4 linked regions of the Homo sapiens genome follow. The protein of the gene in region 1 purifies or fractionates together with the protein of each later gene. This does not show direct contact. Each region holds a gene or a part of one and is shown in the gene's direction. Other genes may lie near its edges.

Region 1 (7,628 bases):
CTGAGATTGCGCCATTGCACTCCAGCCTGGGCGACAAGAGCGAAACTGTCTCAATAAATAAATAAATTAAAAAAAAACTATGTCTTTCCTTAGCTGTAGTATTATATAAGGCCCAAACACAGGAGCTTCATTACAATTGAAAGGAGACTGCATTGCTGGCTCTGGAAGAATGCTTACTGACTTGTATTATTGAATAATCATAATTCTTTTTTCTTTATGAGATGGGGTCTTGCTGTATCGCCCACGTTGGAGTGTAATGGCGCAATCTCAGCTCATTGCAACCTCTCCCTCACGGCTCAAGTCTACTCCCACCTCAGCCTCCCGAGTAGCTGGGACTACTCAAGCCACTGTGCCCGGCTGATTTTTTTTTTTTGTAGAGATGGGGTTTTGCCATGTTGCCCAGGCTTGTCTCAAACTCCTGGGCTCACGCAATCCACCCACTTGGGCCTCCCAAAGTGCTGGGATTACAGGCGTGAGCCACCGCACCTGGCCTGATCATAATTCTTAAAAACGCAGTAGTTGCCCTCTTAATAATGACTTGTGCTTGCCCCTTTTTAAATCTATTTCCAATTGATGTATAGAAAAAGATGAAAAATATATCCATGTAGTTATGAATTTCAGATGTATGTCTGTAGATGAACAGACATTAATATATATAACCATGGCAAAAATAGTTTGATGACAAGTAATTATAATCTCTCTCTCTGGCCATCATTGGCGAGTGCAGTGTTGAGCTAAAAGTGACCCAGAGGAGGTGAACTATAATTTACTTGAGTTAAGAAGGATAAAAATTGGAGCAAACTTTCCAGCCAAAGCAGTTAATTCCCCCAACATAGTAACTTACTTAAATTCAAGTAGAGTGGGTAGATCTATTGAAATGAACTTTACTCTGCTGTGCATGTTACAATGTATTAAAGTATTGCTTCCAAAGAGAACAGAAGAGTGAACATTTAAAAATTTTATTTTAAGAAAGAAATCTGATTACTCTGTGATATTTTTTAAACAATAAAGAGATTTTGCTCTTAAAGTGTTTGAATCTTAACTAATTTTAGTAATTGAACTGAGATGGGTGAGTTCTTTCTTAATACCCTATGGCACTATATTTGAACATTGTTTTTTTAATTATTATGGTTCTGTGGGAAAGTAAGGAAAAGGGATGAGCAGAAACTATACAGTTAGTACTTTATTGTGAAGTTCCTTTTCCTCTAGTGATGGGAGTGAATTCTTAAGTGGGGAATGTTTTCCTCTGGTGCAAAGATTCTGTTACACGAAATAGGCTTCCTGAAGAATTTTAAAGTAGTCTTTTTGCAATTAGTTGCTTACTTTACCATTCACAGAGAGGGAATGATCTGTTGTGAATCCTGTCACTTTATGGCTGTCCTCAGAATTGTACCAAGAAAGTATTACAGCAAAATGATTCAGATTCAGACATGACATCAGATCTGTTTAGAACCCTAGTTCTGCTACTTACTAGATGTGCAGTCATGGACAATTGCTTGGCCTTTCTAGGCCTGTCTCCTCCATCGGTAGAATGGGGGTGAGAGAGTAATAATTTCAACCTTATAATGTAAAAATCAGTGAAATAAAACATGTAACACACTAGCACCCTTCTTACACAGAGAAAACACGTGATATACTAGCCATTAATGATATTACTGCTGCTGCTGAAGACAACAGTTGGTAAGATTAGCTAGGACCCCGCTCTTCAGACTTTGTCATGTTAATTGAACTCTTAAATCTTACACTTCAATTCTTGCTTCCTTTCTGTTCCTAGACTAGAATTAGGTAAATTTCTCTTGATGAACACATTTGAAAGGAGGTAAGTGATTAGGGCCTTTTGGATATGAATTTGGAACTGGGCTTTGAACTCAGGATCCCAAGGGGGGCAGTCGGAGGAGAGAAGTGAAAGTGGTGTCGGACAAGGCAGGTGTCCTTTCTGGAAGGAAATGCCTGAGTCTAGTGGATTGGTTATGCCAAGCCCTGGAGGATTGTCTAGACCATCTAGACTTAGCCACGTGTAGATGAAGGCATAAACATACTTCTGTGATTCTCTCTTGCCTTTGCAAGGTGGTTGCAGTGAGATAATTCAGAAAAGTTGGCTTTTGTTCATGAATATTGTGGTTTGCTTAAAATATATTTGGCTTTAGAGCTGTAATATCTACGTGTAGCTATTGAGCACCTGAAATGTGGCTGTTGCTACATTGTGAAATGATAATATTTTAGATATATGCAATTACGTATTATTGAAATTAAAAACATTATTAAAACTAATTTCACTTGTTTCTCTTAAAAGTTTTTTATTTTTGAAAACTTTAAAAAATACTGCTACAAGAAAATTTAAAATTGCATGTGTGACTTGCATTATATTTCTGTTGCTCTAGAGGGTTACAGTTGAAGGGATGGTTCCAGTCCTGATTCAGGAACTCACTGCTACAATAGTTTGTTCCTTGTTAGGATTCAGGCTACCTCAAAATCTGCTTCATGAGCTGCTGGGCAAGGTCCAGCTTTTTCAATTGAGCATACAGGGAAGATAGTCTTTAGCAGTTACTGATGGCCCAGTTATGTCTCATAAAAAATTTAAGCATTTAGGGCCGGGCGCGGTGGCTCACACTGTAATCTCAGCACTTTGGGAGGCCAAGGCGGGCAGATCACGAGCTCAGGAAATCGAGACCATCCTGGCCAACATGGAGAAACCCCGTCTCTACTAGAAATACAAAAATTAGCTGGGTGTAGTGGCACGTGCCTCTAATCCTAGCTACTCAGGAGGCTGAGGCAGGAGAATTACTTGAACCAGGGAGTCAGAGGTTGCAGTGAGCCAAGATTGCGCCACTGCACTCCAGCCTAGTGACACAGTGAGACTCTGTCTCAAAAAAAAAAAAAAAAATTAAGCTTTTATGGGGTTGTATTCATCTTTGAATAATATACATTCATATAAACAATTGTGTGTGTGTATGCATCTATAGATCTATATATCTGTATGTTGTCTATATATTGGTCAATTTAGTCAACCTAAGTAATGGCTTCAGTCTTTTGTTTTTGTTTTTTTTTTTTAAATAAACTTTTTATTTTAGAACAGTCTGAAATTTACAGAAAAATCACAAAGATAGTACGGAGAATCCCATATACCCCATGCCCAGTTTTCTCTGTGATTAACATCATGTTAATATGGTACATTTGTTACAGCTAGTGAGCCCATATTGATACATTATTATTAACTAAAGGTCATACTTTATTCAGATTTCGTTTTGTTCTGTTTGTTCTTTTTACCTAATGTCCTTTAACTATTCCAGGATCCAATCTGGGACACTGTAAAACATTTAGTACTCATGGATTTTTAGGCCCCTCATGGCTATGACAGTTTCTCAAACTGTCCTTGTTTCTGATGACTTTACAGTTTAGAAGAGTACTGGTCAGATATTTTCTAGAAGGTTCCCTCAACTGGGATTTGCTCAATGTTTTTCTCATGATTAGATTGGAGTTCTGGGTTTTGGGGAGGAGGACCACAGAAGTAAAGCATCATTTTCACCACATACCAAGAATACATACTGTCAACATGACTTATCACTACTGATGTTAACCTTTATCACGTGGCTGAGGTAGTGTTTGCCAGGTTTCTCCACTGTAAAGTTACTGTTTCCCTCCCTTTTCCATACTATTTGGAAGAAAATCATATATGCATAGCCTATACTTAAGGAGTGGAGAGTTACACTCTACCTCCTTGAAGCCAAGTAATTACGTGAATTATTTGTAATTCTTTTATGTAAGAGAGATTTATCTATTCATTTATTTACTTATTCAGTCATTTACATCAGTATGGACTCATAGATACCTATTTTATCCTTTGTGTTATATTCCAATACTACTTTATTTTCATGTTGCTCAAATTGTTTTAGCGTTGACCATTGGGAGCCTTTTTTTTAATTTGGCTTCTGTGTCCTTTTGGTATACCCCCATCATTTTGGCTTTTTTCTTTTCTTTTTTTTAAGGACTATATTGCTTTCTGATAGTATAAGATACTCCAGGATCATCTTCTCTATTTCCTGTTTCAGTGCTAGAATCAGCCCTTTCTCTGAGGAATCCTGTTTCCTTTAATTAAAGAAGGGTATTAGAAACCAAGATCTGGACAGTAGGTGTGCACATTACTCCCGGGGTGTTGTTGCCTCTGGAACCTCTCAGCTGACAAAGCAAGGAAATTCACATGTATATACTAAGCCATGTATATGAACATATCTACAAGCATTTGCATATGTAATCATTTGTATATATAGTATGTTAAACACAAGTTCATACTAGTATCTCCAGCTCTAATCCATTATCAGATGGATCATTCTGTAATTGCTTTATTTCAACACTGACCATTCTATACCATGTTACACAGGGTAGCATCAGTAATATACCCATTTAAAAATTATCTGTTCCTCTCTTAGTGGTTTGACCCTACATTTCTAAGTACATACATAATTTCTGCTGCTAGTTTTATTTTAACATATCTACATTGCACAAAGACAGGTACAAGTAACTGAATTCAAGTGAGCCTTGACACTTTAATGAGGGTGTTCTGTGCTGATTAAGCACTTCTGTAAATATCAAGAATTATACTATGCAAAGACTTGTTTGTACGTCAGCACTAAGAACTTCTATTGAGTAGGAAATGAGAGGCCAAGATGGGAGGATCACTTGAGCCCAGGAGCTCAAGATCAGCCTGGGCAACATAGTGAAGCCCCATCTCTACAAAATAAAATTGAATTTAAAACTAGCTGGGCATAGTGGCACGCACCTGTCATCCCAGCTACTCAGGAGGCTGAGATGGGAGGACACCTTGAACCCAGGAGTTTGAGGTTACAGTGAGCTATGATCATGCCACTGCACTCTAGCCTGGGTGACAGAGCGAGATCTTGTCTCTAAATGAAAAAGAAAACTAATTAAAAATGTATTGAGTAGGAAAGAAAAGATCATACATACTATGCTAAGACTTATGTGTATGTACATCAGCACTTATCAAGCTTATAGACCAAAAAAAAAAAAAAAAGTGGGAGACTGTTTATATATTAAATAGTATATTTTATATAATACATATAGCAGTTACGAGCTCAGTTCAGGACAACAGACCCACCCCATTAGAGTTCCAACTCTGCTATTTATTAGTTGTTGAACTTTCAGGAAATAATTTAGTATCTCTGATCTTATTTAATGGCTTGAGAAAGGGATAGTAATAATACCTCAAAAAGGTTGTTTTAAGGATTGACTATAACAATGTTAAACACAGAGCACCATGTACATTAATGATAGCCCTTAGTTACAAAGGTCTGAATCCTAGGTACATGTTGTTTGAAAGGGGATGTCATTTGGGGTGGGCAGAATGAATCTCTTTTGGGAATTACATGTAAATGTTGCCAGGTTACCAAAACTTCGTGTTGGTAGGTATTTCCAAGGTCATCTAGTTCAGTTCCCTCCCCTTCCCTCCTCCCCTCCTCCCCTCCCCTCCTCCCCTCACCTCCCCCCTCCCCTCCCCTCCCCCCTCCCCTCACCTCCCCTCCCCTCCTCCCCTCCCCTCCCCTCCCCTCCCCTCCCCTCCTCCCCTCCCCTCCCCCTCCCCTCCCCTCCTCCACTCCCCTCCGCTCCTCCTTCCCTCCTTCCCCCCTTCCCCCTTCCCCCTTCCCCCTTCCCTTCTTCCCTTCTTCCCTCCTTCCCTCCTTCCCCCCTTTCCCCCTTCCCCCCTTCCCCCTTCCCTTCTTCCCTCCTTCCCTCCTTCCCTCCTTCCCTCCTTCCCTCCTTCCTTCCTCCCTCCCTCCCTCCTTCTCTCCTTCCTTTGTTCCTTTCCTTCCTTTGTTCCTTCCCTTCACTTCCCTTTCCTTCCTTCCTTCCTTCTCTGCTCCCTCCCTTCCTCCCGCCCTCCTTCTCACCTTGCTTTGTTCTTTCCCTCCTTCCTTTGTTCCTTCCCTCCTTCTCCCCTCCCTCCCTTCCTCCCTTCCTTCCTTCCTTCCTTCCTTCCTCATACTTTACCCCTAAATCATCACTTTTGAGATTTGCCTTCTTAAAAACATGAGGAACACTATAAGGACCAATCAAAGAATGTCTCAGTTCCATCATTATTTCTGACAGCACCATCACAAAATGAATTTTATGAAAAGAAAATGATCTAATTGTGTTAACTCCACCTCTATTCCAATTTAATTATTTTTTTCGTGAAGGGAAATTTGTCATTTCAAATGGGAAGATTTGCCCCAGTCCTCACTAAAATGAGCTGTTTTTCCCCCTCAGTTTCTCTGTGAGTAATAAGTATGTTGCTGCGTGCTAAGACTGACTCATTTATTCTGTAAGCACTTAGTGGCCCCTACCATGTACAGCTCTCTATGCTAAATACAGAGTTTGGACACGATTTGTCAAGAGTAGTCTCTGCCTTCAAGGAGCCGGCAATGAGCCTGAAGAGGAAACTGCAGGCCAGGTGCAGTGGCTCACACCTGTAATCCCAGCACTTTGGGAGGCCGAGGCAGGTGGATCACTTGAGGTCAGGAGTTTGAGATGACCCTGACCAACATGGTGAAACCTCATTCTACTAATATAATACAAAAATTAGCTGTGTGTGGTGGCGCATGCCTGTAGTCCTAGCTACTCGGGAGGCTGCAGCAGGAGAACCACTTGAACCTGGGAGGTGGAGGTTGCCGTGAGCCAAGATTGCACCACTGCACTCCAGGCTGGGTGACAAAGTGAGAGTCCATCTCAAAAAAAAAAAAAAAAAAAAGAGGAAACTGTAGAACCTAATTTTTAATGACCGTTGTACCCCCTAGAGCCGAGCATAGAACTCTAGGAATTCAAAGGAAATGAGGTATGTCTCAGGACCTCGCCTAGAAGGATAGGTGGGGTTTGGACAGACAGAAACAAGCAAAGACTATATTATAAGAGGTTGCAATAAATGGATGCAGTGGGCATCTGTTGCACCCAGCAGCTTTCATTCTATCTACTCAATTTCCTATTGAGGAACTACTTAAACCCCCTTATTCCAGTCTTGATAGAACTGACAGGCTGCCCTGCCCTCTGTAGGTCAAGAGGTGAACATATTACCTAAGCAAGGACATTTATAGAATTTTTGCCAGGAATTTGATCAGAATGAACCAAGGAAAGAGAATAGTTAGAGCCGCTCAAGACTTTGCTTTAGCAGAGACTGTAAGTTCCTATTTCCTTGGTATCCTGAGCTACTCCTCATACTTGTCTTTCCCAAGCTGGGTGGCTCATTTTTGTCCATTGATCCTATGAGCCACCCCACATTATTCTAACAAATTATCTTTTTTGAATTAGTTTAGCCAGAATCACTTCTGTCGCATTCAGCCAAAGAACCCTAAATGGTAGCTTAACAAAGATTTAGAGAAGAAAAAAACAAGATTTGTTTGGGTAGCAATGAACAGTCTGTCTGTAGACTGCATACTAGAAACCTTGTAGTTGGAAATAAAGTTGGAAAGGATGCTCGGCTCTGAAATGTCGAGGACCTTAACTGCTAAGCTCAACTGACCCACCAAAGCCAAATTTTAGGAAGATTAAATGGGAGAGGGGGCAGGGAGACCAAGGTGGTTAGTAGCATAGCTTCTTTTGCAAATTCTTGCTGTGTCCTGCATTATGTATTTAACTTACTT
Region 2 (7,628 bases), on another chromosome or scaffold:
TGTTACTCTTAATTTGAATGTTTTATTCTCTAGATAGTATAGTTGGGCTAACGTAAATAAAATTTATATTTATATATTTATAAATATATATATATAAATTTAAATATATTTTATATAAAGTATATATACATGTATGTATTTATATATTGCCTATCTAGTTATGGCTTGGAATTTTGTTTTAGGCTATGAGTGAAATGTCAAGTTGCAAATTTTCAAGGAATAGCAGGATCAGGGCTCTCTAAGCACTCCAGCAGGCATGGGCCTTGCCACGTTGTGCCAGGTGCCAGGCTCTGTGCTGCTCCTTGCCTCACCAGCACCCCTGCTCTGGCACCCACACACAGGTGCATCTTCCAGTCCTTGGGCCCTCTCTCAATCTCTATCCTATTATCACAAACATTTGGGATCAGACTGATGAACTTTAAGCTATTTCACAATAAAACGTGGATGATTTGCCCTATACTTAGCTCTACCTAAGTGTACACCATGGAAAACGTAGGAAAAATAGCCCTGTGACCTCAGGAGCACACAAGGCCCTGGTGGTGTCCCAGTTCTCTGTCCTTAGGCCAGTGATGCATTATAGCATTTTTCTGACCCTAAAAAAATTGTCACTATTTCCTCATGTCTTCCATAGAGGTCCTTAGAGTGTGGATCATAATGAGCAGGATCTTTTCAGTCTTGATAGCCCTAAGACCAGGTCAGGGCAGAGCCACCCACAAAAAGCCTTGGATCTGCTTTACACCAGAGACAGTCACCATCCAGCTGGACTGAAGCTCTGGGCCCCTGGAAGCTCTTGTAAGAAAAGCTTCTAATAACTGAGCTTCCCTGATCCTAGCCCCTGAAGTCTGGCCATTTGATGGAGTTCACCCCTCGCAGTCTGAGAAGAGGTCAGTGTCAGTATGGAGGAAGGTCATGGGGCTGTTGGAAGGGTTTTCAGACAGAACCAAGTAACCAGGCAGGCTTTTAATAGTGCCTGAGATTTTTTTTAAATTACCCGATAGGAAAATTTGGCAACTCTACAAGGAAAAAGAGTCTTAGTTGCTAGCGTCTTCTGGCTCTTGCCTGCGGGGCTGGTGTGAGCAGTTACTTTGACCAGTCAGGAAGGCTTGTGGGGATCTGGTCAGAACCAACTGCTGAGATGGAACTCTCACATTCCTGCCTGTCTTCTTCATGTGAGGAAGACATACCCATTTATGGCTGCAAACTTCCTTGAATTCATACTTGGGAAACCCGACCCTTGTGTCTGGGAGCCCTGGTGGAGAACTCTGACTTTAGGGCAGCCCTTGCCTCGGTTGCCAGGGTCAGGCATTCCTTGTGGTCATACCTGCCTGTAAAGTAACCCCCAGTTGTCATCTGGAAAGCCTGAAGGACCCTGGATTCTATTCATGGGTTAAACTTAACAGACATTGATGGTTCTTGTGCCTTTGTGTGTGAAGGGCTATGGCTTACCTTCTTGTCATTCCAGGGAACTCTCCCTTTCCCCCCACCAAAAAAACCCACAACTTCCCCTGGGTCACACTTTTTTTAAAAAAGTACTCTAGATCTTCGGAATCAGGTTGACTGGAACCTATGGGTTGCTGAAGTTCCACAGGTACCAGGAAGAGCTCTTTTACAAGAGATTGAATGCTTTTCAATTATAACACAGTATATAGATGGGTGTTTGTTGATTTAGCAGACGTTTATTTGCACTTTAAGGGGACAAAGCCCATTGTGAGGCCTATTGGGAGAGCTTAAAGACATAGAGGGCCCTTCCTGGAATTCCTTAAATAGTACCACCCAGGCACCAACCTACACCACTACATAAAAGCCTTGCCCAGGGGAAAATAGACAAGAAATGTGAAAACTCTTTATATCACTCTTGATGCATCACTTGTTCAGAGATAGTAATTGTTTGTTTCTCCTGACTCCTCTGGTTGTTCTTCTCACACAGGCACTGCTGGGAGACAGTGGCAGCCAGAACTGGAGCACTGGAACAACAGATAAATATGGGCGTCTGGACCGAGAGCTCCAGAGAGCCAATTCTCATTTCATTGAGGAGCAGCAGGCACAGCAGCAGGTACCCCAAGGACCCCAGACTTAGGACGGGCCAGTGGGAAACAAGACACCCCCTTAGTTCCTTTGCCAGCCATGGGGTCTTGTGGCTTAGTGACAAGGAGGGTAAGCCAGAGCTTGTCCTGTGTTGATTGTGTTTAATAATTGCATATGTAAAGGGTTTCAAAATCTTCACAGTGTGACTGCTTCAAGAGAACCAAGCTCAGCCAGGCGTGGTGGCTCACACCTTTAGTCCTAGCTACTGAGGAGGCTGAGGCTGGAGGATCCTTGAGCCCAGGAGTTCAAGGCTACAGTGAGCTTCGATCATGCCATTGCATTCTAGCCTGGGTGACAGAGCAAGACCCTTTCTCTAAAAAAATAAAGAACCAAGCTCAGTTAGTTCTCTTAGAAAAAACAGACCTTTGTCCATCTCAGCAAAGACACTTTCAGAAAGATCTCTCATTTTTTTCTTCGAAAATTATTGATTGGTTTCTTTTTTTTTTTTTTTTTTGTGAGACGGAGTCTCACTCTGTCACCCAGGCTGGAGTGCAGTGGCACCATCTCGGCTCACGGCAACCTCCGCCTCCCGAGTTCAAGCAGTTCTCCTGCCTCAGCCTCCTGAGTAGCTGGGACTACAGGTGCACGCCACCACGCCCAGCTAATTTTTTTTTTGTATTTTAGTAGAGACGGGGTTTCACCTTGTTTCTCAGGCTGGTCTCGAACTCTTGAGCTCAGGCAATCCACCTGACTCAGCCTCCCAAAGTACTAGGATTACAGGCATGAGCCACCGCGCCCGGCCTATTGGTTGGTTTTGTTATATGTAAAGATGACTGCTTTTGTGTAGGTTAAGGGGTAGAAGGAAAATGAAATTGATTATGTCTGTTGATGCCTTTGATATGTAGCTGTATTAATAAAAGCAAGCTAATGATAATGTGTCTGGGGATTTGAGGAGCATGTACCCATTGAAACTATTGATTCTTAAATATTGTGTTTTATGTATACATGTAGTTTATATGTTCTTTTGTTCTTTACATTAGTATGTCTGCTTAACCAGTTGTCTACTTAAATTGCTATTAAACCCAGGAAATTTTTTTTCTATAGAAAGTGAGAAGAATGCAACACAACTAAAAGTAAATATTTGTCAGTCAGTAGTTGTCCTTGAGGTAACTTATTGCCACAGGGAATCCTTTCGTTTGTCCTTGAAGAGAGAGGAAAGACTGCATAGTTTCCCCACATCCAGAGATTTGCCAGACTCTCTTGTATTTAAGCTGTGGCAGTCTGTTGTGGATTGAGACCTTGATCTTGGCAATGGGCTTCCTCCTCCCAAACATCCCCATGTCTCAATGGTCATCTGCACGTGTGCTTTCAACCATTGTCTGCTCCATTATTGGACGTCAGCCAACCAGAGTAAATCTCTCTTGGTGGTTTCAAGCCCCGCTGACTGTTCACAAGTTGGATCAGCAGGAGATATCAGTAGCTTAACAATCCAGCCTTTTGAGCAGTGTGTTCTCAGAGGCAACGGTCTGGTCCTTTGATTTCTGGGCTTTGCTTCTGAATGTGAATTGTCCCAAGTTGGCAAAGAAACTAGCAGCTGCTAGAGTGCTGGGCTTGGAACCAGGTAAGATGGATTTTAATTGCTTATTTCCCATTTCTCTGGCACCAGTTGATCGTGGAACAGCAGGATGAGCAGTTGGAGCTGGTCTCTGGCAGCATCGGGGTGCTGAAGAACATGTCCCAGCGCATCGGAGGGGAGCTGGAGGAACAGGCAGTGTGAGTATTGAGACACCCCTCTCGCTTCAGTGAAATTGAGGGGCAGAGCCATCCTATGACACCCCTAAAAAGCCTGGCAGCTACGTGGCTGGTAAAATCAAAAGCTATTTTATTCATAGCTGCATTTTTATTCTGTTTTACAGATTAGCCTCCCCAAAAGAAGCAATTCTACTTCGTAAATTTTACTACAGGCTTTAGGTGAAGTTGTTATTATTTTTAAACACCTCCAAAAACAGACACAGATGTCTCTGAGCAGATACTCGAAGTATAGTTATGAATGGGAATATGAAACAGAGAAGCCTCTGTAACCTGTGGGAATTTTTGTTCCAGAGAGGATAGGACATGAGCTGACTTTATCATCCCATGACTCTCCTGCTATATTGAACAGACACGTTTTGCTTTGAATCTTAAATTATTGTAACTTTGTTTTTTTTTTTTAAAAAAAACTTACAAATTTAACGCCAGTTAATAAAAACTCTTTCCTCTCAGAAAAATAAATAAAAACAAAACATAACCTCAGTTTGTTTTTCCTTATGAACAATCCCTTTTGCACCCAGAAGTTCGATGGCAAAAACTGCATTCTTAAATGCTGCCACATCATTTTGTAAATCTTTTGAAAGAGAAAAATGAAAAAACAGTCCACCAGGATATTTCAGAAACTTTCCTGTCTCGATATTACGTTTATCATGACACATTGATTGATTATGAATTCTTAGTGGGCCCGTGTTCTACACCGGGCCTTCTGGAAGCCAAGGGATATAGAAGGGAACAGAGCAGACAAGACAACCCATCTCTGCCAAAGAGTTTGCCGCTTGCAGGGTAGAACGGATATTGGGTAAGTGGCGAGGGGTCATTAGGTGATGGCAGTGAAGTGGGAGGGCCCCTGTGATGGGGCCAGTGCATGCTGCCTGGAGAGCCCTGACTTAGCCCAAGGTCCCTGAGGAAGAGGGGTTTAACTGAAATCTGAAGGATGTGTGGATGCTAGCCAGGTGAGGTGAGAGTTGGTGTGGAGGCAGGTGGTGTGGGGTGTGTAGACCAGGAGGAAGAAAATGCACCTGTGAAGATGGAGAGGTGCACACGTGCATGGAGCAGAGAGGTTCCATGTGTCTGGAGGCAGAGAACAAACCAGGGAAGGCCTTGTCAGCATGGTAAGGAGGTACGACTACTTATTCTCAGCATAATGAGAGACCAGTGGAGGTGAGGTGAGGAGTGATGGTGTGATCAGGTGTGATTTAGATGATGTGCTGCAGTGGAGTCAGGTAGGGAGACCAGGTAGGAAGCTGGAGTAGCCAGAATCTGTTTCATGTCTATCTAAAATGGGTCCTGACCCTAAAGTTCAGTTTGAGGAGGGGAAAGGACTAATGGCCTGAGCTTCTCTGTTGATGAGGCAGCCTGGCTGGGCAGTGGGTAATAGAGTCAGAGGGACTTCCAGTTAAAGATGGTGCATTGACACACCCCTACCTCCACTCCCTCTCCACAGCTCACTAGAACAATAGTAAAGGGGTTTGTTTTTAAGGGCATGAAACCGCTGGGCATGGTGGTTCACACCTGTAGTCCCAAGTACTAGGGAAGGAGGCTGAGGTGGGAGGATTGTTTGAGCCCAGGTGTTTGAGGCTGCAGTGAGCTATGATGGCACCACTGTACTCCAACCTGGGTGACAGAGGAGACCCTGTCTCTAAAAAAATAGAAATAACAGATAAATGGGAAAAAGCATGGGATTTGGACTTAGACCTGTGCCATCCAGTATAATAGCTACTAGCCACATGTGGCTGTTGAGTAAGTGTTATGTGGCCAGTCTGAATTGAGATGTGCTCCAGAGGTAAAATGCTTACTGGATTTTGAAGACTTCATATAGAAAAATATAAAATAGCTTATTAATAATTTTTATATTACATGTTGAAATTACAGTATTTTGGCTATATTAAACTAAATACAACAGAATTAATTTCACCTGTTTCTTTTGAAATTTTTACAAACATGGCTACTAGAAAATGTAAAATGGCATATGTGACTCATATTTTTGTTGGATGGTACTGAGATAGATTTGGGCTAGCAACTTGGTTGGTGAGTGTCCATGGACTGAAGGTCGGATGATGTGCCTGATGATGTGCCTGTTTTGTCTTCAGTATGAAAAGTCATACCTAGCGCAGAAAGGTAGCTCTTGCTTTTTAGAGTTTGGCCCTGCCTGGATAGGCCTGCCAGCTGCAGCGCCAAGATGCTGCCAGGATCTAAAATGAGTTAAATATTTTTTAATTTGAAAATTTAGGTAAGGGACAAAGACTTATTTTAGTTGTCAACATATATGTAACAGTTGATTTAATGAAGAGTTGGTTGCCCTGAATCCTGCAAGGCTGTCAGGTGTCTATTGTGGGCACAGATCAAGACCAGGAGTTTCTAACTGCCATTGATGCTGTCAGAGTTAATACAGCCTTTTTAGTAAGACTGTTAGTACTAATTGGCATATTACATTCTAGCCTCAGAATAATCATTTACTAATCAAAAGTTGAAAAGTCTGGAATATTTAGTGACTTATGAAATAGGCACTGCTGAAATAGTATTTTGGGGTTTTCTTTCCCAGCTGCACATTGGACAGCAAATAGTGTAAGCCTGCTGGAGTCAGTTTTCCTAGTGGGAAATACTGGTTTCTCTGTGAGGACAGATGGGGAAATGCGCGTGTGCATGCACAGACACACTGTCACACACCCCATCAGGGATGTTAGTCCTGAGGCCTTCTGGGTTTATAATAAAGCACGTAGTGCCTTATAGGAGGTTATTTTATTAAAGTACATTCCTTAACTCATATTGACATAAAGTGCTTTTGTTTATTACCTGGTTCTCACAAGAGCCCTGTGAGGGAAGTTGAGCTGATAGGATTGCCCTATTTTACAGGTGAGGAAACAGTCCCAAAGAGTTATAGAGTATGTTGTCGAAGGTAGCAATGTAAACAAGTGGCAAAGCCTGGTTGTCTGCCTCAGATAGCATTGTTTCTACCACATTGCACTGCCACTGAGTTTGTGTTATTGTATAGACAGGTCTATAGTCTTGCAGTTCTGAAATCTAGGAAGCTCTAAAGAAATCTCGTTGTTTTTTTTTTCTTTAAATTTGCCGCAAGCTCATGTTACAGAAAAACCTTACCTGAACTGACTCCAACTGTGATTCCTCATAGTTTTCTCTGCAGAAATATTAAGTATCTGATTACGGGGACTGCCCCAGACCCTCCTGGTGGTGTCCTCCTAGTGGTGTCGACTAATACAAAGGATATGTAATTTAGGCTTTTTTTAATCCTGAGAATTCCAAAATCAAAATCCTATCTTGTCCCAAGGATTTTGGATAACAGAGTGAGGTCCTGAAACCCAGTGTTGCCTATTTTGTTTGCTAAAATGGAGGCCTGGTCCTTTTAACCCAGTGCAAGTGCACTGCCAAGGCTTTGTGCTTACCAGCGACCTTCTGTGTCTGCTTCTCTCTAGTATGTTGGAAGATTTCTCTCACGAATTGGAGAGCACTCAGTCCCGGCTGGACAATGTGATGAAGAAACTTGCAAAAGTATCTCATATGACCAGTGGTATGTATGGCGTTTAAAGCTTAAGCATTTGTACTTAATTCTAGAACTCTGTCTTGGGGGTGTTGTCTCATAGTTATGCCCATCCAGATCCCTTTCTTATTTTTTACAGATCCCTTTCTCTTTTTTTTGAGACAGAGTCTCACTCTTTCACCCAGGCTGGAGTGCAGTGGTGCCATCTCAGCTAACTGCAACCTCCACTGCCTCCTGGGTTCAAGCGATTCTCATGCCTTGACCTCCTGAGTAGCTGGGATTACAGGTGCGTGCCACC
Region 3 (7,742 bases), on another chromosome or scaffold:
CATACATGAATTAGTATATATAAATTTATTTCCTAGCTCTGTCCATTGAGGGGAGCGTAGAAGCACTGACACCCTAGTAACAATGAGAAGGTTAGTGCCTTGATCTTGATTTCTTTTCTTTTCTTCTTTTTGGTAGGGTGGGGGACAGGGTCTCACTCTGTTGTCCACACTGCAGTGCAGTGGCATGATCTTGGCTCACTGCAGCCTTGACCTCTTGGGCTCAGGCAATCCTCCCACCTCAGCCTCCTGAGTAGCTGGGACTATAGCTACTGTGCACATCACCACACCCAGCTAATTTTTGTAGAGATGGGTGTAATAGCCAAGGTTCTCTAGTGGAACAGAATTAATGGAATACATATATATATATATATATATATATATATATATATATATATATATATATATGAGTTTATTAAGTATGAACTCACATGATCACAAGGTCCCATAGGCTGTCTGCAGGCTAAGGAGCAAGGAGAGCCAGTCCGAGTTCCAAAACTGAAGAACTTGGATGCTCAGGGGCAGGAAGCGTTCAGCACGGGAGAAAGATATAGGGTGGGAGGCTAGGCTAGTCTAGCCTTTTCACATTTTTCTGCCTGCTTTATATTTGCTGGCAGCTGATTAGATGGTGCCCACCAGATTAAGGGTGGGCCTGTGTTCTCCAGCCCACTGACTCAAATGTTAATCTCTGTTGGCGACATCTTCACAGACACACCCAAGATCAATACTTTGCATCCTTCAATCCAATCAAGTTGACACTCAGTATTAACCATCACAACAGGGTTTTGCCCCATTGCCTAGGCTGGCCTCGAACTTCTGGGCTCAAATGATCTGCCTGCCTTCGCCTTCCAAAGTGCTGGGTTTACAGGTGTGAGCCATGCTACTGTGCCTGGTGGTCCTGGCCTTTGATTTCTAAATAGCTTTTTCCAATAAAAAGAAGAAGTGCTTAATAGTAAAATGACTGATTCTAGAGCTGGAGCAGGGAGAATACAAGCTAATTTAGTTGGTACTGCTATACCAATGCTGATTTCTTAGTTTTGACAAGTGGACCATGGTTATGTAAGATGTTAACATTAAGGAAACATTAGGGGAACCTGGGTGAGGTATATACAGGAGTGCTGTACTATCTTTGCAGCTCTTCTATAAATCTAAAATTATTCCAAAATAAAGAATCGTTTAAAACATGGGGGAGAAGAAAAAATGTTTTCTAGCTAATGGGAACTACGTGAGCGAAGCACAGAAATAAGAAAACCCCTGGTTTGTGACTGGGGAGCTAGCTGCTGGGATGGAGGGGAGAGCAGACAGAGAAAGAGGAGTTATTTAAGCCAACATATTCCAAGCATAAATTTTGATGCTTGGAAAGGCAGGATCAGACCATGTGGTCCTTATATGTATAGGGACCATATGATGCATCATCTGAACTGAAGCACGTTTGAGAATGAAAGGGCATGCTCAGAAGACAGGCGGCCAGGACAACAAGCATAAACTAGGGCTGTCCTAGCAAACTAAATATATGGTCACCCTGTGTATATGCAGGGGGCTTGGACTTGATTTTGAGAGCAGTGTTTTCCATTATGCATATTTAAAAGTTTTACAGGCAAGTTCCACCATCAAATACACTCATAAAATACTGGGTAAAAGAAATTTTTACTTGTTTCTTTCCTGAACCACTTCTCAGCGTCTTTAATTTACAAATATGCTCTGTGAATCTTCAAGAATGCAATATAATATGTTTCCCAAACATTTCTTTGTAGACCAATTCCCTGATTCCTTATTTCAACCCACACAATTCCCCAGCTCTCCCCAATCTAATTATTTTGGTTTTTTTTCTTAAGAAATACAGTTCAGGGAATGCTGCAATCATGGAAATGGCATGAAGCCTGGAGCAAAGTTCTCAGATTAGAGCTTCAAATATTCAGTGGTGGCTTTGACAATAATAAAGTTGAGAAGACCTGGAGATAGAAGATCCAACAAGGAGGCTATTGCAGTGGATCAGGATGTCAACCGTGAGGGACAGAGAGAAGAGGGCACATATGAACAACACTTAGGAGGTAAAATTAGAAACGAAAATACCAGTCATCAGGAGGTAAAATTAGAAACAAATATACCGGTCATCATGCTATAATGGCCCATGTAAGATTTCCACGGGATATCTGTTTATTACCTCCATGTTCAAAAGCTAGGGCAAAATCAATTCTGTGCTTGATATATGACTAGGCACTTGTGTGATCTTAAACAGAAAACAAGTAGACTGTAGAGAGACATGGAAGGTGCTTAACAATAAGGCACAACTGAACTAACTCTTGTTTATTAAGTATTAATTTAAGCTTCCTTTTAATCTAGCATAGATTTTTTAAACCAGTTGTGGTTTTCCCACTGTATTATAAATAAAAACAAACCTTCATAAGTCAACTTGTCCTTCTCACTTACCAATAAGTCCCTGTTTGCTCTATTTACCTTTATGCGTCTTTTACTTCTTTGGCTTTCCCAGAAGATCACATAGTGGTCATGTAAAAAATATTTTTAGTTCAGTAACTATTAAATGAACCAGCAATTATCTCCTTCTATTCCCTGGAATTGCTATCCCAGACACTGGAGATACAGCAGTGGACAGTTCTCCATCCTACATGAGAGATGTTACATAGGAGGTATTTATGGTATTTATATTAATAAGGACACCACAAGTGTGCAGATAACATTCCCCACTCAACAACTTCTGGTTTCCTTCAAAATCTCTCCAAGAAGGCCCAAATCTCGCAAATTACTATTTCTGAAAATCCAAATTACAAGCTTTCAGTCATAGGTAACTTCTGCACATGGAAATGATTTATTTTGGGAGATGTGACATTATCACTCATCAAATTAGGAGACTTTTAAAGCCCTACCACTTTCAAGACACCTGGCTGAATTTAACTTGGTAGCAGCCAGATTCACAGATGGAATACTGTGTCAGGAACTCTTAGTAATTCATTTATCTTAATACTTCTAAATTTTGCAAGTTTGTCTAGACTATAATTCTTTTTTTTCCCATTTGAATACCAAAGGATGAAATCTTATTCTAAGTTTTCAAAAGACCTGGAAGGAATCCACTCATAACATATTTTAAAACAAGGAATTGGAATGAGCCCAAGATGAGGGCTCAGACAGCTAAGTTTTGGGCCCAGCATAGTCAGTAACTATCAGGGTAACTTGAAGAGGCCACTTAATCTCAGGTTCTTCTGTAGTGCATTGTACCTTCCCTCCCCGGAGCCCAGAGTTCTATCAAAGGTAATATGAATGGGTATTTGGAAAGTGCACTAAACCTCACATGGATGTAAGATCCTTTCATGTGTTCCTTCAATGATTGAAATGTTTCTTCCTACGTTCACCAGCCACTTCCTAATTCTCAAGTACAATGCACTACTTTCAGTTCTTTATTTACTTGAACTTTGTGTAACAGGTGACATCATGGACAATTCCCTCCTTTTTTCCTTCATTCTCTAGTTTACCTTTTCCTGGTTTATTTCCTATCTTGTGGGTTACTCGTTTTCAGGGTTATTCTTTCTCTGTCCATCTCTCTTAAGCAGACAACATTCCACACTTAGTGTTGGTGAGTTCCAATCAGAATTCTATCCTGGGTTTTGTTTTTTTCCACCTAAGTGCGTCTGGACTTTTGATATCACCTATCCGGGTAATCATTTTAGAAAATAGTGTTGCCTTAATATAGGCAAAGGCTAAGCCAATCTATCTTCTAATTAATTTGGAGAGGGCTTTCTTTCATTTGTAGCAATTGATGCTTTTCATCTAACAATTACAATATATTTGCATATTTATCATTGGAACTGTCTCTGCTTGTTTTAAACCCTGTGAAAACTACGCCCTGCTTTTCAGGAATGCTTAGAATGACTTGTATGTACTAGGAAAACTTGTTTACAAGTGAGCACCCAGAGATGACTCTTCACTTATTCCTTCATTGTTCCTGCTAGGATTGTGTACTCGCCTTTGCATTTTTCGATAGAGCTGTCAACGCGATCTACTGCAGTTAAAGGTTAGCAAACAAGACAGGCAAGAGCTAATGGGGCGGGGTGAAGACCCGCGTGCAAGAAGGCTGGCTTCACCAGATAAAGAAGACAACTGTCCTCCATTCTGTCCTTTTTTGCACGCAGGCTAAGAGGCGTTCACCATCTCTACGTCAGGCTTCAAAGAACAGCTCCCTTGCAATTTTGCTGATACCCCCATTCCTTAGCTTGGAACCGGAGGGGCGGTGAGGGCCGCTGTCACTCAGCCCCGCGGGCCAATAGAAAAGGGGTGAACCCCGCCTTCTTCCTGAGTTGTGCTGCGGGCATGCGCACTGGGCGTCCCCACGCCACCGCCCATCAGCTGAGAATTGCAGCTGAGGGCTCCGGGGTAGGTGGGTGACGGCGGTCGGAGGTGTAGGAGGGAGCCGTGGAGGTCCAGGTAAGAGGACCCTGGGGAGGGGGCTCCCTGGCCGGGCGACAGGGAGGCGCGGTGCCCCTGCGGCTGCTGCGCCTTCTTGTTTGTGCGCGTGGTCAGGTGGCCGCCGCCCTGCGCTCTGCAGCAGGCACTCGGGAGGCTAGGAAGGGCGGGACTGCCCCAGCTCCCGGAGCGCCTGCGGCTCCCCACGCCCCCCGGCCGGGTGCAAGGGCGCGGCGCGTTCCGCATTCCGGGTGCGCGCGGCTGTGGTCAGGTGGGCCTACCCAGCCACGCACCCGCCGCGGTCCCCTGGGCAGAGCTCCGGAGGCGCACGGCTGGCGGAGCGCACCCCGGGGAGGGCGCCAGAGCCGGCTGGGGCCCAGCTCAGGAATCCAGACACGACCAAATGACCTCTTCCTCTTTTCAACTCACGGATTGAAAAACACACTAAACTTCCCGAATATAGAGGAACTGAAAAATGTATGGCTGTAGCAGGCGAACCGTGTATGTTTATTTATTCAGAGGATCGTAGTATTGTTTTTTTAATTTGGCTTGATGACTTTAACATACTTTGACATTCTTTGAGTATACACCTTTAATTAATTTACATAAAAACCTTTAAACGTACATAAAATATTTCTAGTATTTCCTCCACCTTGTTTTCTAGTTACTTTCTTTAAATTCAGACAAAGAAAAAAAGTTGCATTTCTGATCAAATGCTGTGTGTTTTTTCCCACAAATTTCTTACATTTGTTTGGCTCTTATCTGTATACGTTAATTTTTGTTTACCTCAGATCGTTGTATTCTGACTATAATTATATATAATATATAAAACTTGCCCAGAATCTGGAAGAAAAGAAAGTAATTATGAAATGCTGTGCTATTTAATAATGTTGGAAGTGGACATTTCTTCTGCAGGTTCTCTGAGCACACCTGGGCAGAGGCTGATAACGGTGTTAAACTGTGTTTTGTGTTGTGGACAGGCCTTATAGGCTACTTTGAGAAGTTGGCCTCAGACTCGTGACTAGTTAAGAATTATGCTCTTAACTTCACAGTTTCTGTAGAGGTTAATATGATACCATATTAACTGATTAACATCATAATTTTTCCTCAGATATGTTACTTATGTTGCTCTTGATAACAAAATCAATCCTTATTTTGGTTATGACCCCAAACTTTAAGTGCTGATGATTGAAAAGTAAATTATAGAAAATATTCACAGTAAGTCTGAGTGAAGTTTGCTGTGATTCCATTTAATTTGCAAGTTTCATGTGTGAAAGTATGAAAAAAACAATCCTCGGTATTGTGAACTAAAACCAAGTAGTACAAAAGGTCAGTGATGAAAGAGCTAAGGCCAAAGAATACAGTTAATGTAGTTTTTGCAGAGGATACTTATGTAGACAGAGCACCCTCACATTCCTTGAGCATTTACTATGCACCAGGCACTGTAGATTACACAGGATGACAAGGTCATCTCTCTCCTGTTTATATTCCAGAAGTAGCTCCTGTTTGTATTCCAGAGGTGTAGGGATAAATAATAAACAGTGATTAATTCGACTTTTGAGTATTGTGAAGCAGTAAGTTAGATTGACAAAGAGTGACCAGTGGTGAGTTCTCACTTTCATATCAGAGTGGTCACAAAGGTTTCTCTAGCATGTGATGAGGCCTTGCTGGGGAGAAGGAGCCAGTCACGTGGAGATCATGGGAAGAGCCTTCTAGAAATAGGAAATGGCACCCAGCAAAGGCCCAAGGCAGCAAGAAGCCTGGGACCTTCGGTATCTGAAAGAAGGCACTGGAATTTTATGTTTTGGAAATGGTAATATTTACCCTCACGCTGGGTGTGTGTTCTTAGGAGGTGGGTACATTCATTCATTCTACAAATGTTTGTTAAGCACTTGTGATGTAGCCAGGCAGTGAGAATAGTGCAGTCCACAAAACAGACAAAAAAATGCTCACCCCCCACCCCTCAGAACTTACTTGGGGTAGAGGGTATAGAGAAGTCCAGTTGTTTATGCTGATGCTAATGATTAAGAAAGTGAAATTGACTACTTCTTTGCCCAGGGTAGATTTATAGAGCATGAGATATATGCTAAATGGAAATCTTAAGGATTCTACAGTATATCGGATTTTAACTGGGAGTAGTGTTTGACACTTCAAGATTAAATTTTAACATTCCTTTTGTTCATTCCTTTGTGTTCTTTAGAAGCCGTCTTGAGAAGACTCTCATCTGAGTGTTGCACTTTGATTCTCCCTTCCTGTTTTTCTCTTTATAGTGTTTGTATATCTTCATAGAAAGATGATTATTGCAATGTGGAGATTAGCACTGTGCAATAGATCTTTCTGTGATAATGGAAGTGGTCTATGAATGAGCTGTCCAAGCTGCTGGCCACTAGCCACACAGAATTTTTGAACATTTGAAAGGTGTCTAGTGTGACTGAGGAACTGATTTTTTTCATTTAACTTAATTTTAATTAATTTTAATTTTTTAAAAACGAGAGCTACAATGTAATTTAAGTGATACACAATATAAAATGGTGTAAATTGTCACATGAAAAAATGAAATGTAGAGTAAAAGTGTAGTTTCTTACTGCAATCAGTTATCTTGTTAGCAGCTTAAAATAACCTGTAATAAGATTTTTTTGCTTTTATTATTTTAATCGACAGATAATGATTTACATATTTGTGGATACATGTGATACATCAGTAGATGTGTACAATGTGTAATGATCAAATCAGGGTAATTAGCATATCCATTACCTCAAACATTTAACATTTCTTTGTGTTAAGAGCATTCACAATTCATTCTTTCTTCTAAGTATTTGAAAATATGCAATAAATTGTAATTAATTGTAGTCACCTTTTAGGGGTATAGAACACTAGACTTCATTCCTCCTACCTAGCTGTATTTTGGTGTTAGTTAACCAACCTTTGGCTATCCCCTTCCCGCCATCCTTCTCTGCTTCTAGTAACCACTATAATTTTAACAGCCCATTTAGTTAGTGGCTAGTCTGTTAGTACAGGTCTAGGTAATGAATTATATAATTATTATTCTGAGCAATTAAATAGGAATTCTGAGTGGGCTTTCAAAAGTATTCAACAAGAGTACTTTAGTGCGTAGCAGCTCTGGGCTAGGTAATGGAGACTGATGTGGAAAGCAGACATCTGAATAACTCAGCATCCATTTAGCCTATATGCAGAGATCATAAGCTTTTAATCAATTTGTAGTTACCTATCCTGTCTGTCTATGCTTGTATATATATTTTTTAAAGACAACCATTTGGTTCCTTTCCTTTGTGTGTCTCATTATCAAAAGAGCCAACTGTTGTTGCCTT
Region 4 (8,435 bases), on another chromosome or scaffold:
ATGGTTAACTACATGATATCTGTATACTTCTTCTCCAAACTAATTGAGTTACATGCTTACAAGAGTCAATTTGCATTTGTACTCCAAAGTATTTATGCCTATTATACTTATAGAATATATTTAAATATGTAAACTAATGAAATACAAATAGAAAGTTATTTTCTATAAAAACTAAATTGATAAACATGAACAACAAACAAAAATTACTATAGAACTAGGCACAGGTAAGACAAACCTGTAAAACTTTGGAGAAAAAATTGTACAAAAATCTAGACTGACTGGGCATTCAAATTGCTTGAAAGGTGTCTTTAACTTCTTATTCCACTTTGAAGAAAATGAAACTGTAAACTGTAAACAATGCAACTTGTAACAAAGACAAAGCAGGTGTTCCAACCAGCAAATTCATGCTCAGATAAAAGGTCTTGGGCCTACTACCAAGACTGGTGAGTGAACATATACATTTGAGTCAAAATAAAATGACTAAAGTATATATTTGCCATTTTTAAATATGTACCACTGTAACTGACTTTTTAAATTAACTGGTCCAGTGGTCCCAATTTTAGGGGAAGAGAGTGCCTCTACCATTGTTTTAATTGAAAAACTGATATACATGGTAAAGATATTCCAATAGTACAAAACACTACACATCAAGAAAGTTTCCCTTCTGTATTAGTCTTCTAGGGCTGCTATAATGAAATACCATGGACTAGGTGGCTTAACTACAGAAATTTATTTTCTCACAGTCCTAGAGGCTAAAAGTCCAGGATCAAGGAGTCATCAGGGTTGGCTTATGGTGTGGCCTCTCTTTCTGGACTGCAAATGGCCATCTTCTGTGTTCTCATATGGCCTCTTCTCTGTGCCCATGCACTCAGACACTAGCCCTACAGGATTAGGGTTTTGCCTTTTTGATTTCATTTAACCTTAATTATTGTCCTAAAGGCCCTATCTCCAAATCTAGTCACACTGGAAGTTAAGACTTCAACATATGAATTTTGAGGGGACATAATTCAGTCCATAACACTTTCCATGCCAGATTCACAGTCCTCCTGGTGTGTGTGTGTGTGTGTGTGTGTGTGTGTGTGTGATGCTCAAATGGAAGTAGAGTCTACACACTATTTTGCACCTTACTTTTCTCACCTTATAGCATCATAGAGGTATTCCATGTCAGCACATATAGATCTATCTAGTTCATTTTAATGGCTGCATACTATTCTATTGAATGGCTAGACTATGACTCATTTCAGCAATTTCCTATTGCTGAACATTTAGAGTTTTTTTTTTCACTCTGTTACAAAAATCCTGTAACAGATATTTTTATAGAATACTTTTATATACAACCTGTATACCCATGGGATAAATTTTAGAAGTAAAATTATTAGATCAAAAAGAACTTCATATAAAATTTTGATACATATAATTACCATGAAATTTTTAAAAATGCACCAATTTTTATACTCTTACTGTTTAAGAATGCTTGTTCCTCCCACGCTGCTCCCATACCACACATACACACACCCAATATTGTAGTATCAAATTTTTTTTATTTTTGCTATTGAGCTAACACAAAAGATCAAACTGTCAAATCAGGCTCAAATCAGAGATTTTACTCAGTATCAAGCTTTACTAATAGTTTCAAGGATACCAGTAATCCCCAGGTCCTTTCTTCTTGCTTTGGATGCATCCTGGCCCAGGACAGTAGATGTGGTTTCTAAATCAAGTGTACAGTCACCCCACTTACACAGAAGGAGCCAAATCAGTTACAAAACACTTCCATTTTATGCTACGTTACATAACTTCCGCGGTATTTTCCAGTTAATCATACCCCTGAAATCCGCATTGATTCTTTTTTGTTTTGTGAGAGGGAGTCTCATTCTGTTGACCAGGATGGAGGGCGGTGGCGCGATCTCTGCTCACTGCAACCTCCGCATCTCCAGTGCAAGCTATTCTTCTGCCTCAGCCTCCTGAGTAGCTGGTGTTACAAGTGTACACCACCACACTCAGCTAATTTTTGTAGTTTTGGTAGAGACGGGGTTTTGCCATGTTGGCCAGGCTGGTAACTCCTGACCTCAAGTGATCCACCTGCCTCAGCCTCCCAAAGTGCTGGAATTACCACATCGATTCTTAATGTGTTTACCATAAACAATCCCAGCCCTGGGACATCCTGTTAGAGGAATTCCGTAAATATGGACTCTCTTGCTAGCAAATGCCATTAGTTTGTTTGCCAGGAGGTCTGTAATTAGTATATACTTTATATTTTATAAAAATCACATGCTTTTTTGCTTGCTTTAACCTTGCTTTCCTGAGAGTATTTCCCTACGAAGGGAGAGACTGGATTGCAGATCTTCTGCTCAACTCCTTCTTTCTCAGTCACTGATAGATGAAAAATGGTATTTCCTTGTTCACTTTTACATTTTAAGTAATGTTGAACATTTAGCAACAAAATATTGAAAGCTAGAAGGGAGATGAATCAAGATGCAATTGCCTTAGCAGACTTGAAAAGTAGGAATCCCAAGCAGGCCATGAAGCAACCTGATACACACAGTGAAACCCTGTATAAGGCTCAGGAATTGGAAACACCACGTAAAGCTGAAGAGAGCATGATGTGAGCTATAAATACAGGCGGAATGGTATAAAGTCTGTTTAAGAATGAATCAGATGCTGAGATTCCCTTTGCTATCCCATCAAAAACCCAGAGATTTAGTCCTGAAAGACAGCAAAACGCTGATTCTCTAGCTAGGAGGACAGCAGGCCCTCTTAAGGATGAAGGTGTCATGTTGAAAAAGGGGAAAAGAAAATTAGAGGACTAACATCTGAATAACTGAAGCTCACTAAAAAGAAAATGGAGGAAATAAGTAACTCAAGTTGCTTGGAGTTCTGACTCTAAGCTCAGTGCTATTATAATCTTTTAGGCTTACTGGTATATTTGATTCATGTTAACTGTAAAATGACATTTTCTAAGTTTCACAAATATTGGGGTTAGTCAAAGGGACTTTGTTCAGGTGATTAAGGGTGGGGCTTGCATTACCCCTCTCCTAAGCGATCATTCCAAAATGACTGGCAGGACTAAAGAATTATGTTTAAAAAACAAAAAAACCCAAAGAATGGATTATCTGTAAAAGCTATGCAATGACGTGCCTGTTAGAGCTCACTGACCACACCTTAAGTTGTCTAAGAGATGAGGCTATAACTAGCTAAACTCTAATTGGCTAAGGCACCAAAGCCAGAAAATAGCCCATAACATGCAAATATACAGACATAAAATCAACTGTAAGTGCTGGGCACAGCTGCTCATGCCTGTAATCCCAGCTACTTGGGAGGCAGAGGCAGGAAGATCACTTTAGCTCAGGAGTTCAGAGCTGCTGTGCGCTATGATTGTGTCACTGCACTCCAGCCTGGGGGAAGAAGTGAGACTTCATCTCAAAAAAAAAAAAAAGATCAGCTGTAGAAGAAAAAATAATGTCAGGGTTACCTGTGGAGTCTGGGGGTAGACCCACTATCACACCTAGACAGGGATACAAACCATGAGAGGCTTCTCTTCTAAGTGGGCCGTTTCAGTCCAAGTTGCTGACTTGGACAGCAACTTGGACTGAATAAACACAGGCAACTGAGTTTAGCATTAAGCTTTCAGAACCTTCAACTGACAACTCAACGGCTGTTTCTAAATCTCAGAACATTTAAATCAGAATCTAGGTAGCACGTGGGCACCTACGTAGTTTTAAAAGCTTTCCAAGTGATTCAACTCCAAGTGAATCAGAGTGGAGCATCGTTGCCTTAGTCATGGCATCTTTCAAATTCGTTAGTACATTTTTACATAAAAATAAACATCAAACAAAAGAAGAACAACTTTTTGGTAAGAGGGTGTCTATTCTTTCCTTTCCTTTAGTGTCCGCAGATCTTTCCTCCTGCTGTTTTCTTGTCTACTCTTGTTCTTGAACACCCCCTCTTATTTTTATGTCTTTAGAAAGTGCCTGGCACAGTATTTCAGACAGTTAAAATACTGTATCAACAAAGGACCCATAGATACTGTATTAATTTTAAAAGATGTGTAGTGAATATGATTCAATGAGTAAAATAATCCAGCTGGGGCGTGGGAGGAACGGATAATAAAACAAATAAGAGAACGGAAAAACAAAATTAGGAATTGTTTCTGGTAGACAGCTACTGCGGGCGTGGAGATCTAAACATGATACCAAATTGGGCGGAGGGGGAGGGAGTGAGGAAGGAATGGGCAGAGTGGCGGAATGGCCTGGCGAGGGCGATTTCCTGAAGGCTTTCAGGTTACAACTAAGGGATACCGGGAAAAGAACACCGAGCCCTCGTCCCGTATCTATCTAAACTAGCCGTGTTAACTTTAAGTCAATCTCCTCTCTGAACCAGATATTCCTCCTATCTAAAGGGAGGAGCCTGGCCTTAACATCTCTTTCCAAGTCTAGCTCTAATTCTGTAAACAGGGGATCAAACAGATCTCCTTTCTTCAGAAAAGGCCCCAGACGAACCCGAAGCAGGTCCTCGAGCTGCGAGCCACTCTCCACTTGCCACTCAACGTAGTCAGCCAGAGGGACGGATGTGCCACCAAGCACCACCTTCTTTCTAACGCCTCATCACCCCAGCCACGCACTCCGGCGCGGCGCCCAGTCCCGAGCGGTTCTCGGAAGTTTCCCACTCCTCCCCTAATCGCCCTCCACGCACGCCGGATCACGACCGGAACGTGGACAACCAGTGGTTGTTCCTCCCCTAAAGCACAGCATAAATTTGGAGAGATGCATCTAAACTGCGTGTGGGTTCGGGCTCTTTTAGGTGAATAGGGCTCGGCGGATCGACTTCCTCGATTATCTCCGTGCCCTGGACCCGCCCCCTCCGCCTGGCGCCAGGCCGCCGAGCGCCGATCGGCTCGATGAGCGGAGGCGCTGCTGCGGCGCTGCGGCCGACGCCGGGTCCGCACCAACTGTCTCCCCCTCCCAGCTTCTTACCTCGGCTTCCTACTCCTTCCCCCGCCCGCCCAGCACCGCCAGCCCGGGAGAGCTGCCGGGAGTTCCCCGGGAGCCTCAGGTACTGGCGCTGGCCTGTTCGCAGCGGGAGGGGCTGGTGTGAGGAGGAAGGAAACGAAGAAGACGCCCCTGCCTTGCCGCCCCCCGACGTCCTAGTCGGGCTGGTCGGCGGGCCTCGGGGATCTAGGAAGGGACCCCGGAGTGGGAAAAGGTTGGGGCCGGGGGTGCCGTGAGGAAGGAAGACGAGGACAGGGGTATGCGGACGAGGAGCAGTTGAGGGAGAGAAGAATTGGAATTGAGGGGTACTCTGGGGTGATGGGAAGAGAACAGTACCATGGATGGGGAAGGTTTGTTAAGAGTGGGATGTAGTGAGGAATTCCAGGGGGTACAATGGGGCAGGAAGGGCCAGCGTTAGGAGCAGATATATCGTGGGACGTGGCCTGGTGTGACAGATTGGGTGTGGGGGGTGAACGGAGCTGCCTGAAATTGTGTATTTAAAGGGCCCGGGGGAAAGAGCGCCAACCCTGCTGTGTTTATAATGACCGGAAGGTGGGGGTGAATCGTTACACTTGACAGGTTTTGCAAATAATATCTCCGGTCTGTGTCCATCCAAGTCACTTTATTTCTGTGAAACTGCATCAAGCAAGAAGGCTGATGACAGACAAGGAAGACGAATCAGAAAGAGAATGGAGGCTGGGAAAAGGAGAGCCTTTGCCCAGATTCAAAGCTATTGACTAGATAACGTACTACTTACAAAAACGCACACATAGACATTTAAGTATATGCTGATGTATAAGAAGCATACGGTGATGTGACTCATTTGAGTGAATTGTATAGTGGTGGTCTATCCTCAATGTGGAAGTACATGATGGCTCTCTTATTTACATGTATACCTAGTCACAAACAGCTGAATTCACATGTCTTTTTTTGTAGGAGAAATCTTAGGCAGACTATATCCTAGTCTACTTTCTGAGCATGATTTATTTCTACTAGTTGTTTGATACACATATCAGTTACTAATAATCAGTTGCAAATAACATCAAAGTTCATCAAGGTAGCTAATTAATCTGCCTACTGCTTTGCTGATGGGCTATTTGTTGCACATGGTTTCTTGGGATTAAGAGACCTGAATATGGTGTTTGCTCATCCTTAAGATTGTAGTTTTACTGTATGTCTTATAAAGGCATTATATAAGTCTGCCCGTTGTTTGCTTTGGGATGTTGAGGCAGCCTCATTGCAGGGGTTAAAATCTAAATACAGATAATAGTTAAAAGCACAAGTTCTTCAGTAATTTGCCTTGTCATCTGTTTTTCCATGCATTCTGTTACATTTCTGCATGAATGAAGTATTCTGACATCAAAGTATGAGGAATAAAAGGGCCAGATGTATGTGACAGAAATATTGTGGAACCAAGAACTCAAGAGCTGTTACTCAGGCAGCAAGAATTTGGTTTTTGTTACAAGTGAATAATTTCTGATTTGGAAGCATTTCTTATCAAAGAAAAGTGTGTCCTTTGGTTTTGACAAGCAGCTGACTTAAAACATTACTTTTATTTGGTTCGTGAAGCCAGATCCTGGGATTATTCTTTTTTAAGTGTATATCATTAACAAACAAACTGATGTCTAACTATACCTAATTTAAAGGTCTAAGTGTTTCTTCTTATGGAAAAGGAAGCAGGACTATTGGGTTGTTAGCAGGAAGTGAGTCTTTCTAGAACAGAATTCTGTAAACCTGATGGGCAACTAATTGAACAAATGATTAAAACTGATAATGCACAGCCATTGATTAATTTAGGCCTGTATCTCTGCTGTTTCAATGAATGTAGTGACTAACGTTATCGTTACTAAACTTTAGTTTTCTCCTAGTTTCTTGGTGCCTACTTTAAAGAAGCATCATAAAGAGTAAAAGAAAATGCATGTGTATCACTGAGCACCGTGCCTAGCACATAGTAAAACATTCAGTATTTCTGAGCTATCCTGAATTGATGGGTATTCATCTACCATCTAGTCAAAAATACTGAAAATTCATTATTTGCATAGAAGAACTTTTTCGCAAAAAAAAATTTTAGTATGTTGCATACACAAGCATTTTCCTGGAAAGTCACAATGCATATTAGCATATAACAGGATGTGAGTCATTCTGTAGCAAAGAAAACTAGCTTTGTTTAATCCAGTTGTTTTGATAGAAAAAAATTGAGTTTCTCCTATTCTCTCTCAACACAGACCCCCAAAAGATTTCTCCTCACAAGCAAGGAGGAAATTCTGCAGCAGATTCTCCAGCTGGGTGTCCTCTAATTCAATTCTGATACTGTATACCTAGAGATAGCATCAGATCCTGCAGGTTGAGGGCTTAATCCTACAAGATTCCCCCCACTTCAGGTGCCAATCACAAGTTCCAGGTTGTTTTACCTGTGTTTCCAACTGACTGGCTATAAATCAGAGTTCCCACAATCCCTTCCTTGTGTTCAGTTTATTTGCTAGAGTGGCTTACAGAATTAAGAGAAACACTTTGTTTACTGGTTTATTATAAAGGATAGAGATCAACAGCCAGATGGAAGAGGTGCATAGGGCAAGGGGTACAGAGCTTCTGTGCCCTCTCCAGGTGTGCCACCGTCCAGGAACTCTCTACTTGTTCAGCTTTTGGGAAGCTCTCTGAACCCTGTCCTTTTTGGGTTTTATGGAGTCTTCCTTAGTAGGCATGATTGATTACATCATTGGCTATTAGAAATCAGTTCAACCTTGAGCCCTCCTCCCCTTCCAGGAAGCTAGGGGGTGGGGCTGTAAAGTCCCAGTCTTCTAATCATGCCTAGGTTTTTCTGTGACCAGCCTCCATCTGGAATCTATCTGGGGGCTAAGCTACCAGTCATCTTATTAGCATACACAAGACACATCACTGCAGCGATTCCAAGGATATGTCAGGAAATGGGGATTAAGACCAAATGAGTATATTTTGTAAATCACGATATCACACCAGTACTTACCAAACTTACCCCTTTTCATGGAGTACCAATGGGACATTATAGTTTGCAGAATATTTTTGCATGTATTATCCAATTTGACCGTCCCAACTCTGCAGAAGCCTGAAAATCAGTATTTTACACCTGAGGAAACTGAATCATTGCTTAAGCAACCAACTAAAAGTGAGAGAAATAGGCATGTTCTCCTGTCTTCTGACTCCAACTTTAAATTGTAAAGCATTTAATGTCTCAGTGAGACGTCCTCCCTCTACTCTCTGCTCTTTCATTTTATAAAAATCTTAAATCACTCATATCCTACACATGTTCTCTTAGGGCAATTACATCCATTTTCTCATAATTTTAACTATTTCTTAGGTGTTGAGGTCTAGCATGGAGGCCCCAGTCACTGGAGTGGAACAAGTGAGAGGGCAGGAATTGAAGTCAGAAAAATGAGGGAGTCCCTGTCATACAGGGTTTCATGTACACTGTTT

The links.
Region 2: the proteins of VTI1A (region 1) and STX6 purify together in Homo sapiens (affinity purification with mass spectrometry; 5 studies listed by BioGRID and IntAct, with this or other methods). This does not show direct contact.
Region 3: the proteins of VTI1A (region 1) and STX7 purify together in Homo sapiens (affinity purification with mass spectrometry; 4 studies listed by BioGRID and IntAct, with this or other methods). This does not show direct contact.
Region 4: the proteins of VTI1A (region 1) and VAMP4 purify together in Homo sapiens (affinity purification with mass spectrometry; 5 studies listed by BioGRID and IntAct, with this or other methods). This does not show direct contact.

What each region holds. Positions count from the first base shown.
Region 1 is NC_000010.11:112,449,700-112,457,327, forward strand, and holds part of VTI1A (vesicle transport through interaction with t-SNAREs homolog 1A), read left to right. Parts: exon of another isoform or gene 1-1,027; intron 1,028-7,628. UniProt on the Homo sapiens protein: V-SNARE that mediates vesicle transport pathways through interactions with t-SNAREs on the target membrane. These interactions are proposed to mediate aspects of the specificity of vesicle trafficking and to promote fusion of the lipid bilayers.
Region 2 is NC_000001.11:180,984,409-180,992,036, reverse strand, and holds part of STX6 (syntaxin-6), read left to right. Parts: intron 1-1,927; coding exon 1,928-2,053; intron 2,054-3,691; coding exon 3,692-3,798; intron 3,799-7,265; coding exon 7,266-7,360; intron 7,361-7,628. UniProt on the Homo sapiens protein: SNARE promoting movement of transport vesicles to target membranes. Targets endosomes to the trans-Golgi network, and may therefore function in retrograde trafficking.
Region 3 is NC_000006.12:132,509,699-132,517,440, reverse strand, and holds the start of STX7 (syntaxin-7), read left to right. Parts: upstream 1-4,324; 5' UTR 4,325-4,434; intron 4,435-4,657; exon of another isoform or gene 4,658-4,914; intron 4,915-7,742. UniProt on the Homo sapiens protein: May be involved in protein trafficking from the plasma membrane to the early endosome (EE) as well as in homotypic fusion of endocytic organelles. Mediates the endocytic trafficking from early endosomes to late endosomes and lysosomes.
Region 4 is NC_000001.11:171,738,524-171,746,958, reverse strand, and holds the start of VAMP4 (vesicle-associated membrane protein 4), read left to right. Parts: upstream 1-4,893; 5' UTR 4,894-5,049; intron 5,050-8,435. UniProt on the Homo sapiens protein: Involved in the pathway that functions to remove an inhibitor (probably synaptotagmin-4) of calcium-triggered exocytosis during the maturation of secretory granules.